Regions from separate parts of the Homo sapiens genome. Here region 2 is linked to region 1. A link means that fine-mapping ties the variant in region 1 to the expression of a gene that starts in the linked region. Tissue or cell type: monocytes. Region 1 holds a variant in brackets; the other region holds the start of a gene. All regions are shown on one strand. Distances are between the middles of the regions. Region 1 overlaps MVB12B (multivesicular body subunit 12B). Region 2 holds the start of MVB12B (multivesicular body subunit 12B).

The links.
Region 2: MVB12B starts here. The variant in region 1 is fine-mapped to the expression of MVB12B in monocytes (CEDAR, PIP 0.95).

What each region holds. Positions count from the first base shown.
Region 1 is chr9:126,411,674-126,416,673 of GRCh38, reverse strand. The region is part of intron 6 of MVB12B (multivesicular body subunit 12B); the gene reads right to left. Among named protein-coding and RNA genes, the nearest start is that of NRON, 3.7 kb to the right of the region's middle. RefSeq lists an enhancer at 394-986. The variant A/CACACACAA (reference allele first, on the strand shown) is at 2,856.
Region 2 is chr9:126,323,340-126,328,864 of GRCh38, reverse strand. MVB12B (multivesicular body subunit 12B) reads right to left here and starts at 2,036. Exons shown (of 10, transcript NM_033446.3): 1 at 1,855-2,036. The coding sequence starts at 1,935. RefSeq lists an enhancer at 819-1,470 and a silencer at 1,912-2,051.

The DNA of each region.
Region 1 (5,000 bases):
GAAGAGGTCAGTCCATGTGTCCTCCGGAGGTGGTTATCGCTATGTTAGAGTTACCCCGATTCAGCTTCACTATCGGGTATATAAAATGAGACTACTCAATCAGGGCCACAGGGTCCCTCCTGAAGGCCCTTTTGAAATCAGTGATGCCAGGGACATGACATCTCTGCCGCTCACTAGCTCAGTGATCCCGACAGGTTACAGTGAACTATACAGAGCTGGATGACCAATGGCCCGATCGCACACCCAGGGAGGCAAACCAGTTGTAGTGGTTGAGGGCAGTGCCCCCGAGTCCGCTGGATGTGGGTCCAAATCCCAGCGCCAGCACCAGGGAGTCACATGGCCTTTGGCAGGGGTGTGTTGCCTCCCAGGGCACAGAGGGCCACCATGCAGGCAGGGTTGACAGCACGGAACCAGGCATGCGTGAGCACATGCAAGTACGCGAGCTTCAATCCTACTCCCACTCTCCCCATTCTTGCCACCCCGGCATTATTTTAGAGTCTGGCTCATGAGGGCCTCCATGCAGCACCACAGCAGAACCCACGGGGCCTTTCCTCTGCATCAGGATGAAATCCAAACCCGCCCACGGCTGAGAAGTGCTGCCAGCTCTGGCCCATCCCTCCTCTCTGACCACATCTTGTCCACCCTCCCTGCATTCACGTCTGCCAACCTCAGTAGCCGCTTTTGTTCCTCCAGCCTCTGCTCTTGTTCCTGCCTTAGGGCCTTTGCACTTGCCACTGTCCCCAGATCTCAGCGGCTGGCTTCCCTCCCCAGTCAGGCCACCCTTCTGAGGAGGCACCCCGCCACACTCTTATAACACCTGCCTCCTCCCTGTGGCGCCCTTCCCACTCTATCGGGCTGTCTGACTTGTTTTCATGTCACCAGAACATGATCTCCACCACACCTTTTCTTCCCACCACATCCCCAGGGGCGAGAACAATGCCCAGTACACAGTGAGCGCTTAACAAATATTAGGGAAAATCCTCTAAGATTACCTACTACTTGTTGATCTGATTCTGACTTATAATTAGGGATAGTTTCGGGAAACTTCCAGGAAGCCTTGTCTCTTCTCTCCTTCTCATCCCCACGACTGGGTTGGTTAATGGCTTGGAAAATGCAACTATTTCTGATTCACGATATTTTTACGTAAACAATAAATTCATCACGGCACTACTTATAAAGCCAAAAACTAGAATCAGATGAACAATCAAACAATGGAGGACTGGTTAAAAAATTGTGGTACCACTGTTTCATGAAATATTTGGCTGTCTTTTAAAATATTTTAGAAGACTCTTTATTGGTCAGTGCCTATGCCTATGACCACAGCATCCAGTGTCTATGGACTGGCATCCATAGACAGAAAGTCCTTATTTTCATGCTTGGAATCGTGGTCAGTTAACCCAATACTCTTTGGCTTCTTTCCCATACAAAGGCCTCTGGTTCATGAGAATAAACAGGTTGGATTGTCTAAGGAGAGACTGAAGGAAGGCCCCGATCACGACCCTGTACCTGGAGGAGGGAGGAAGCAAGAGATCAGGAGCTGCACTAGGCCACTGGCATTGGACACTCACCTCTTCTGCAGCTCCCAGCCAAGGGAGTTATAAGAATGAGTAGGTACTCGACAGCATCAAACAAAACCGAGAGGCCGGCTGGGAGTGGGGGCTCATGCCTATAATCCCAGGACTTTGGAAGGCCGAGGCGAGTGGGTCACTTGAACCCAGGAGTTTGAGACCAGCCTGGGCATCATGGTGAAACCCCATCTCTACCAAAAAACAAACAAACAAACAAACAAAAATTAGCCAGTTTTATAATCCAGTCTCAAAATAAATAAATAGATAAAAATTAAAAAAAAAAACCTGAGAGGTCCACGAGAATGATGGTGGCTGGTGCACTTATGGACAGCAGTTTCAGTGGAGTCATTTTAGTGGGCCCGAAGTTGACCACTCTGTAGGCAGATCCATGAGTTTAGATTTTAGGAGAGTTCATAAAGCTCCCCAGCAGACTGAGGAGAAGGAGACTCAAAGGCTCGAGAAACTGTCTCTACTTAGGATAGTGCCAGGAGGTGAAGGCCTTCTGGCACCTTCCCCAGTAGGTCTTGGACCCCTGGAGCAAGGGCTGTCCATCAGAGGACAACCATGTCTGCCACTTGACTCAAATGATGGATTATTATTCCAAAATCTGTTTGGTCACTGGAGAATTGTAACTGGAACAGTCCCTAAATCCTCGGGGAGTGTTACCAAGCTATCCTCCCCTTCCCCCTGCCCACGGAACTGCCCGGAGGAGACAGGGCTCTCACCCTGCTGCTTCTGGTGGCCATCACGTCTCTCTGCAGGAGGGATTGGCTGTTCTGTAACAAACAGGTCAGCAAGCACGCACTGCCAGCGATGACGGCTCCAGCTAAATACATGCTGAGGGGAATTTCATTTTTTCCCCCAAGTCAGTCTTAGGCACCTTATTCAATTAACATGGCCACTAAGCTGCAGACAGCTCCATATAAAAGCCCTTCAGTTATAGAATATATTTTATTATGAGACAATAGTTGCCAGCACGATTTATTTCCTTTGATGGGATTCTGCTTTTTCCTTGTTAATTTAAATCTGTATTTTCTAGTGCTGATTCCAGGTCTGTGTGAATTTTTAAAATGTTACCATTAATCTTGTAGACCCAGTGGCCACATATAATGAAGATGGTTCTGCCCAGGCAGCTGCAGTGCCTGCTGTCCTCCCAGACTGTCAAAGGGCAGCGTCGAGAGAGTGGTGACTAGCAAGGCAGAGGCGCACTCATAGTCAGAGGCACCTGCCACTTTGATCTCCCAACCCTTATACACACACACACACACACACACACACACACACACA[A/CACACACAA]CCAATGGGGTTCACAGGATTCCAGAAAATGCAATGAAAAGAGGATACATCCTGGCAAATACTGATGGTGACTTCAGACTTTTCCTCTGCCATACTAAATGCTGGAAGACGACGCAGCCAGTTTTGAAGGTGAAAATAGTTGTGATTCAGCAATTTTGTATGACTTCAAGTTGTCTTTTGTGCAGGAAGACAACAGAAGATTACTCATGTCACCTTCTCTAGGAGAAACACTTAATAATACATTCCAGATGATTCAAATTTAATACTTAAGAAAGGGGAAGTAATGCGACAAAAGGACCAGCATTTATTCTTCCCTTTTTGAGATTTGAGGAAAGAACCTGAAATGTGGGAAATGACCTATTTAAGAAAATTTAAAAATATCATCAGTTGACTTGTTTACAGCGTGTACCTGTCATATGCATCTTATGATCCCTAACCCAATCCTACGGCGAGTTGCTGAGACCCCCCCTACTCCACAGGTGTCTCAGAGAGGCTCCACAGCTTGCCTCTCTGCTGGATACAGCTTGGACTTGAACACAGAGTATGCAGAAGCTTGGATTTGAATGCTGATGGGGCCAATTACACAATTCATGCTCTTAATTATGACGGTCTACTCAAAAACTGGAAATAATGTTACTATGTCTGACTCAGAATATTATGCAGACATAAAATGATGTTTACAGGCTTTGTGGAGAGGGTTGGAGTGAGATGCTCGGGATCTGTGTATGGAATATGATCTCAGCTGTGGAAGGAAAGGACAGGAACCAGGGCCTTGGGGCAGCATTTGTCATGGCAATGAACTGGGAGCAGCCCAATGACCATCAATAAGAGGAGGCTAATAAAATGTGGAATTTTCATATAATACTAAAGTAGGACAGAACGAATAGATGAAGAGAGCCAGAGATTTTTCTGTAGAAATGCCCAACTCCCAAAGACTGGCTGTTAAGTAAAACAAAACCAAAAAACCAGCCAAGCAAAAACAAAGTTGCAGAATGATGTATTATAAACAATCCCATAAGACAATCTTTTTTCCATGGGCACACACGGCTAAGCTACAGTACAGCAAAGGGCTGGAGGGAGTAACTTAGAGGTGACTGAGGGGCAGGAGAGGCTCACGGTATTGACGACAGAAGCCTCTAAGATGGGAGTGTGGATTCTCCCCACTGCTCTTCCATATGTTTTAAGTGTTAATTTTTTTGGATGAGAAATTATTTCTTTTAATCAGAAAAAAAGATGGCAAAAACTAGGGGAACACTTCTCAATGTGGTTGGGAGAGTAGAAGAGACACACGTATGAAAGCATCCAGCGTGGTGGTGCTTGGTGCTGAAGGGACACCTTGTTTTCTATATAATGTGTCTGCTGGTGGACAAAGACCAGAGGTCATGTACAAAGGAGAGGAATGGATTGTGGGGGCAGCAGAAGAAATATGAAAAGCAACAAAAATCAAGTTAAGATAGGAAGGGGAAGAAGAACACAGCAAATGGCTAAATGAAATTCCACATTATTCCTGCAAACACCACTGGGAAGAAGTCATCTGTGACGCACAGCTTCTGTGCCAGGTGTAAGGACGTGCTTAATGAATGCCATTTAATGAAGAAAAAGGCTCTTATAAAACACCTGGCACAAGCAGGGTGCGGGAGTCACAGAGAAGGGGACCTTTGCTGCACCTGCTGGCATTTTAATAAGCACCTTCTAGAGCGCCCGCTCTCCAAGGCTGGTCAATGGTGTCAGAAAGAGGTCCCTGACCATTGCCCACACTTGCTGACAGTTTGGGGAACCTTATTTCTTAAAGACCATATGCTCAGGTATCGGATCACCCTGGAAGGTAATTAAAATGAATCATTTTCAGCTGGAAGGGCCTGACTAACACTCGAATCCTCCTCAATGACTTCACAGCCAGGATTCCTGCTCCAAGTCCCCTGTGTTTCCCAAGTGAGGCTCTGAATTACGATTGAGATCTGTGAAGACCCAGAGATGTGAGGAGATATTGTAATTCTTTCTTGTAACTTGTTTCCGCTAAAACAGAAAGTCAGTTATTTTAATCACTCTAGGCTCTAAAATATTTTCAGTTGTGGTTTTCTTTTCATATTGATTTTGGAGCCAACCTCAGGGAGAAACCACCATGCGCAAAGTTTACTATCATTT
Region 2 (5,525 bases), 88 kb after region 1:
GCTGCAGTGAGCCATGATGGTACCACTGCACTCCAGCCTGAGTGACAGTGAGACCCTGTCTCAAAAACAAACAAAAACCAAAAAAAAAGCAGACAGAAAGAAACTCTAAAAATAAATAAATAAGCTACTCCTCTCATTCATCCGTTAACAAACCTCTCATAATGACCCCTACCGTTTACTGACTTCTTGCCATGTAGCAGGCACTGAGCTAGACTTTTCTTGCAAAATTTCATTTACATCACGCCATAATCCCATGAGATGAATACTATCATTAGTTTCACTCTACAGATGAGGAAACTGAAACTCAGAAAAGTTCAATAATTTGTCCAAGGGCACAAAGTAAGTAGGAAAGCCAAGACTTAAGCTGAGGGCTAATTCTAAACTCCCTGCACATAACCATGGCACAACATTCCAGTTGGAAGTGGTAAAAGGTCCCTAGCAGGATGGAGACAGGGCAAGAAAAATGCCTTGAACCTAAATTAGGAGTGTGACCTAAAGCCTAGAAGGAAGGAATGAAAAATATGGATTACAGAAGGTAAGTTTAGGTTTAAATGAACCAGTAATCGCCACGTCAACTGCTTCCCATGGGGCTTGGAGCCCGGGTCCCAAGCAGAAGCCTCATCTCTCTGAGGCCCTATTTAAAGATTCTGAGCATGGTACAGTATCTCCAAGGACCCCACATGATTTCTAACAAGCAAGAAAGGTGTCACCATCTACTGTAACTAAACATCCTAGCACATTGAGTTTTTCAGTTAGTCAAGGCTTCACAGAGCTTATTTTTTAACTCTCTAAGCTTTCCTGGTGCCGCTGATAAGATTTCCCAGCCCTGTTAAAACGAGATGAGATCCAGCCAGCTGTCGAGAAATGTACAATGAGATTATACTGAGAAGGAACCACGAGAGACAAAGGCCCCTAAGAGGAGCTGGTCTGCTGTCTGCTTTTGTGGCAGCAATCGGAGTGGGCTCTGGTTCTTGGGTGGGGGCAGGAAGCAGGGAAGGGGCAACCACCATTTGCCTTTTGCCCTCCTGTGGTCTTCCTCAGTGCCTTGTGCAAGAGGTGTTGAGGGGCAGGGAACAGAAGAGTCTCATCTTTCATGGTGAGAAGGGCTGCTGATTTAGAACAGTTGTGTGTTGGTAACAAAGAGGACAAAAGATGCTCTTGGGTCTACCCCGTTCCCTGGTGCCTGCCTCTGAGGATGTGATGTCCCCTGGTGCCATGCCTCAGCTCTTGTCCCAGCCCCTGCTCCTCCCGTCTCGCTGGTGTTGGAGTCACTGTAGGGTGCTCGACGTGCCCACCATGTTCCTGGATGGGTGCTCTGGGTCTCGGGTACCCAGGCTGGGCATGTCACCTTCCAGACAGGTGCCTGAGGGTTTAGGTGTCCTCTCTGCTGTGCCCAGGTCACAGAGGCAGTGATGCTCCTGGGGCAGGTGCACGTTGGTCTGCACCCACGTGACCAGAGAGAGCAGGACCCCAGGCCAGGCCGGTCAAACGATTGACTGTTCCCAGTCTGTGCCCAGGTGGGCCGCCTCCCTCTCACGCGGGCAGAGGTGGCTCTCGGCGCCCCTCACCTGCCCGGGCCTTGGGGGCGCTGCTGGCACTCGGGTCCCCCAGCTTCTCCCGCCTCTCGCCGCCAGGCCGAGCCCGGGCACCGGCAGCCGCGGCGCGCTCGGGGCTCTGCAAAGGCCGCCCGGGCCTGTCCCCGCCGCGGGCCGGGCACGGAGCCCGCAGGCCTCGGCGCGGCCCGGCTCCTCCCGTCCGCCCGCCCCTCGGCCGGGGGCCCGCGCCCGCCCGCCCGCCCTCCCGGCTGCAGGGCCGGCTCCGCCGAGCCTCCGCGGCGCCCGGGCCTCACTTAACTGTTCCCCGCTGGGGCGGCGGCGGCGGTGGCTGCGGCGGCGGCGGGTCCCGGCTCCGTCTCACGCAGAAGCAGCTTCTCATCGCCCGGGCGGCGCGGGAGGGGCCGGGCCCGGGGCCCAGGCGGCAGGAGCCGGCGCCGCAGCTCGAGCGCGAGCCTCACCGAGAGCGGCGGCGGCGGCGGCGGCGGCGGAGGGGCGGGGCGCGGCCTGGCGGCGGCGGCGACAACGGCAGTGGCGGCGGCGGCTCCCTCCGCGGGCCGCGGCGGCGGGCCGGGCTCCGGGCCTCCCGGCGCTGGCGCTGGTTCAGGATCGGGGGAGGCGCCCGGCGCCCGAGGCTGGCTCGGGCGGGAGGAGGGAGAGGGAGCCCTGGCGTCCCGAGCCCGCGCCGCCGCCCCGGCCGGCACCCCGCCTCCCCAGCCTCCCCCTCGACCCAGCCCGTCAGCCGCAGGCAGGGCCCCGGTGCGCCCACCCGGGCCTCCCCGAGCCCGCCGGCGACCCCAGTCCAGCCTCAGGCCCCCGGGAGCCCACGGCCTCTAGAGCCTGGGGCATCGATGGTCCCCGCCCCCAGGCTGGTCTTTTCCAGGGACCCTCAGCCCACTTAGCTCTCGTAGGCCTCGCTGTACGCAAGACCGGTCTTCCGCTCGGCTGCAGATCCCTGGAAGCCCCCAGGCCCTCAGGCTAGAAGTTGGACCCTTCTAAGGACTCTCCGCCCACCCAGCCATTCTAGGCTTCACTGAACCCTAGAATCCTTCAGCTCATCTTCCCCCACCCCCCAGCTCACCTAAGGTGAGCTCAGCCAGTCGTCTCAAACTAACCCCAATTGCCTAGCAATTCTCTTATATTAGTTAGATGATTTATCCCCAGAAGCCTAGAATCAGGTTTATGGGGCCAGCCTCAGGCAAGCATCTAGAAGAAGTTTTTAGCAGGAGTCCTACCCTGCAGTACTTGGGGAAGGCATAAGCCAAGGATAAAATGGAGCTGGATGGTTGGGGGAGGGTCCAGAGCTTGACCCTCAGCTAGAGTGGCTGGTAGGAAAGGCGGACTCTGCGCCTTAACCAACCATGCCCCCCACACCGCCCAGCCAGGCACCCCAGGCAGAGGCCAGCGTGTGCAAGATTTGAAAGGTTTCCTGCCAGGAGGCTGGAGCATTCGTTAGGACTTGAGGACCATGCAGGAGTGATCAGCATTGATTTGCTAATGCATTGAGTCTCATTTTCACACATTCTAGGCTTTTCCATAATAGCTGTTTGATCCTAAAGAGAAGGGTGCCAAGCAGAATGGGCTGTCGGGGGAAACATCCTGTAGGGAAGCCATGCACGTGTGCATTCCCAGTGTCTTCACTACTCAGAAATGCCATGGGTTCAGATGGCTTTACAGCAAGCCTTATCCTCCCATCAGGGCACAGATCATCCCTATGTTACTTAAACTGTTACACAGGAAAAAATAAACAAAAGAAACAAAAATTTTTATTTCATTTCCCAAGTTTAGCATAACCCTGATACCAAAATCCAACAGACAATACCAAAAAGAACTGCAGATGACTAACCTAGAACACGAGTCCCCAGAGAATTTAATATTTATTTTTTGAAAATGGGCTTCTGTGGGCAACTTGAGAAAGTGCTGCATGCCGTTTATAGTGTACCTTTTGGAGAATCACGATAAGTATTCGTATATTAAGGAAGGCCTCTGTGAAGTCCAGGAGTAAAGAAACCTGTTTGGTTTGTTTAACCTGGCATTTCCCAAACTCATCTGAGCCAGGACCACCTTCTAAAGCTCACTGATAAATCCTCAATATGTGAATCTGCACTATATATTTAAGTATATAATAGTCGTAAAACTATTAAATACAATTTTAGCCATTTGAATCCAGTTTACTATTAAAGCAACTGAAAACCCACCATGATCAAGCAAGATTTATTCCAGAGGCGCAAGAAAAATCCAACATTAGGGAATTTGTAAATGCATTGCATTGTTAAAGGAAAACAAATTACAGGATATTATCAATGGGATAGATGCTTTAAAAGTATTTTATAAACTTCAAAACTAATGACCCATAAATTTCTAAAAACTCTTAGTAAACTATTATAGGAAGAAAGTTTAAACTTTTAACATGACAAAGTTTATCAGAAGCCATCAACAAACATATTTAATGGTGAAACACTAAAGGTATTCTCATGTAAGTCAGTCAAAAGGATGCCTGCTATAATGGCTATAGAATAAAGCCAATGCAATAAGATAAGAAAAATAAATAAGAAATATAAATATTAGAAGGGAAGAGATAAAATTGTCATTATTTGCTTATGATTTAAGTGTTTCCCAAAAAGTAAAAATAAAAAAAATCAACTAAAAATCATAGAGACTTTGGTAAGGTGGTCAGTTATAAGATAAACACCAAAATCAATGGTTTTCCTAAATGTTAAGGGAGAAGCCTTCTCCTTCCTTCTTCTTCTTCTTCTTCTTCTTCTTATTATTATTATTATTATTATTATTATTATTCTTTTTTTTCTTCCTTACCCTGTCTTATGGTATTGAAGGGAGAAGCCTTCTTTTCCATATAGAGGGACTTCCATTAGAATAAGACTTCTGGCCTCTCTCCACTCTAAGGGAAGATGAGTGAGTTTGGAAAAAGTGGACAAGAATAGATGCTTCTGAGTTCTCTTTTTGGATTTGGCTGACTGCAGAGAGCAAATATTTCCATGCGCTCTCACTGTGGGTTAAGTGAACCTGTTTCAGGGACAGAGTGATACTATTCTCCTGCACCACCCGCCACTACACAAATAAATCTACTCAATTCAGGGAGAAATATAGCAAGCCCACTTAGCTACAGAGCAAAAGCTACTTTTTCCAGTCAGCTTCATTAAAAATTAAGGTAGTATTTTTGTCTTATGTCTCTTTCCTGTGTCTATGCCCCAGTTTGTTCCAAACTTAGAATAGGGAGGGAGGTATTACTTACAGAGACCTCCAAATACAACACTAAATACCAGTTATTTCCATTTAGGAAGTATGATGGAAAAAAAGCATATTCACATTAGCAATGAATACTATAAGGCATATACTAGGCATAAGCTTAACAAGAAATGTGAAGGTCCATGGAAAGAAAACTACAAACCTGACTGAGGGACATAAAAGAAGATCTTAATAGTCGGAAAAATATAACAAATCCCTGGGCAGGAAGTCTCAACAGTGCAAAGATGCTGTGTCTCCCCAACTCACTTTATAAATTTAGTAAAATTCAGATCAAGAAACCACTATGATCTGAGGGGTGAGGTGAGATGGAACATGATGAAATTATTTTAAAATTTACCTTGATTGGCGTGAGTGTGTTGGCTCATGCTGGTAATCCCAGTACTTTGGGAGGCCAAGGTGGGAGGATTGTTTGGGGCCAGGAGTTTGCGACTAGACTGGGCAACATAGTGAGACCCTGTCTCTAAAAAGATTTTTTAAATGAGCCAGGTATGGTGGTGTGTGCCTGTGGTCCCAGCTACTTGGGAGGCTGTGGTGGGAGGATTGCTGGAACCCAGGAATTTGAGGCTACAGTAGGCTATAATCACGCCACTGCACTCCAGCCTAGGCAACAGAGCAAGATCTTATCTCAGAAACAAACAAACAAACAACAACAAAAAAAAACTAACAAGAAACTTATCTTGATAAATAAGTATGAGGAAATACCCA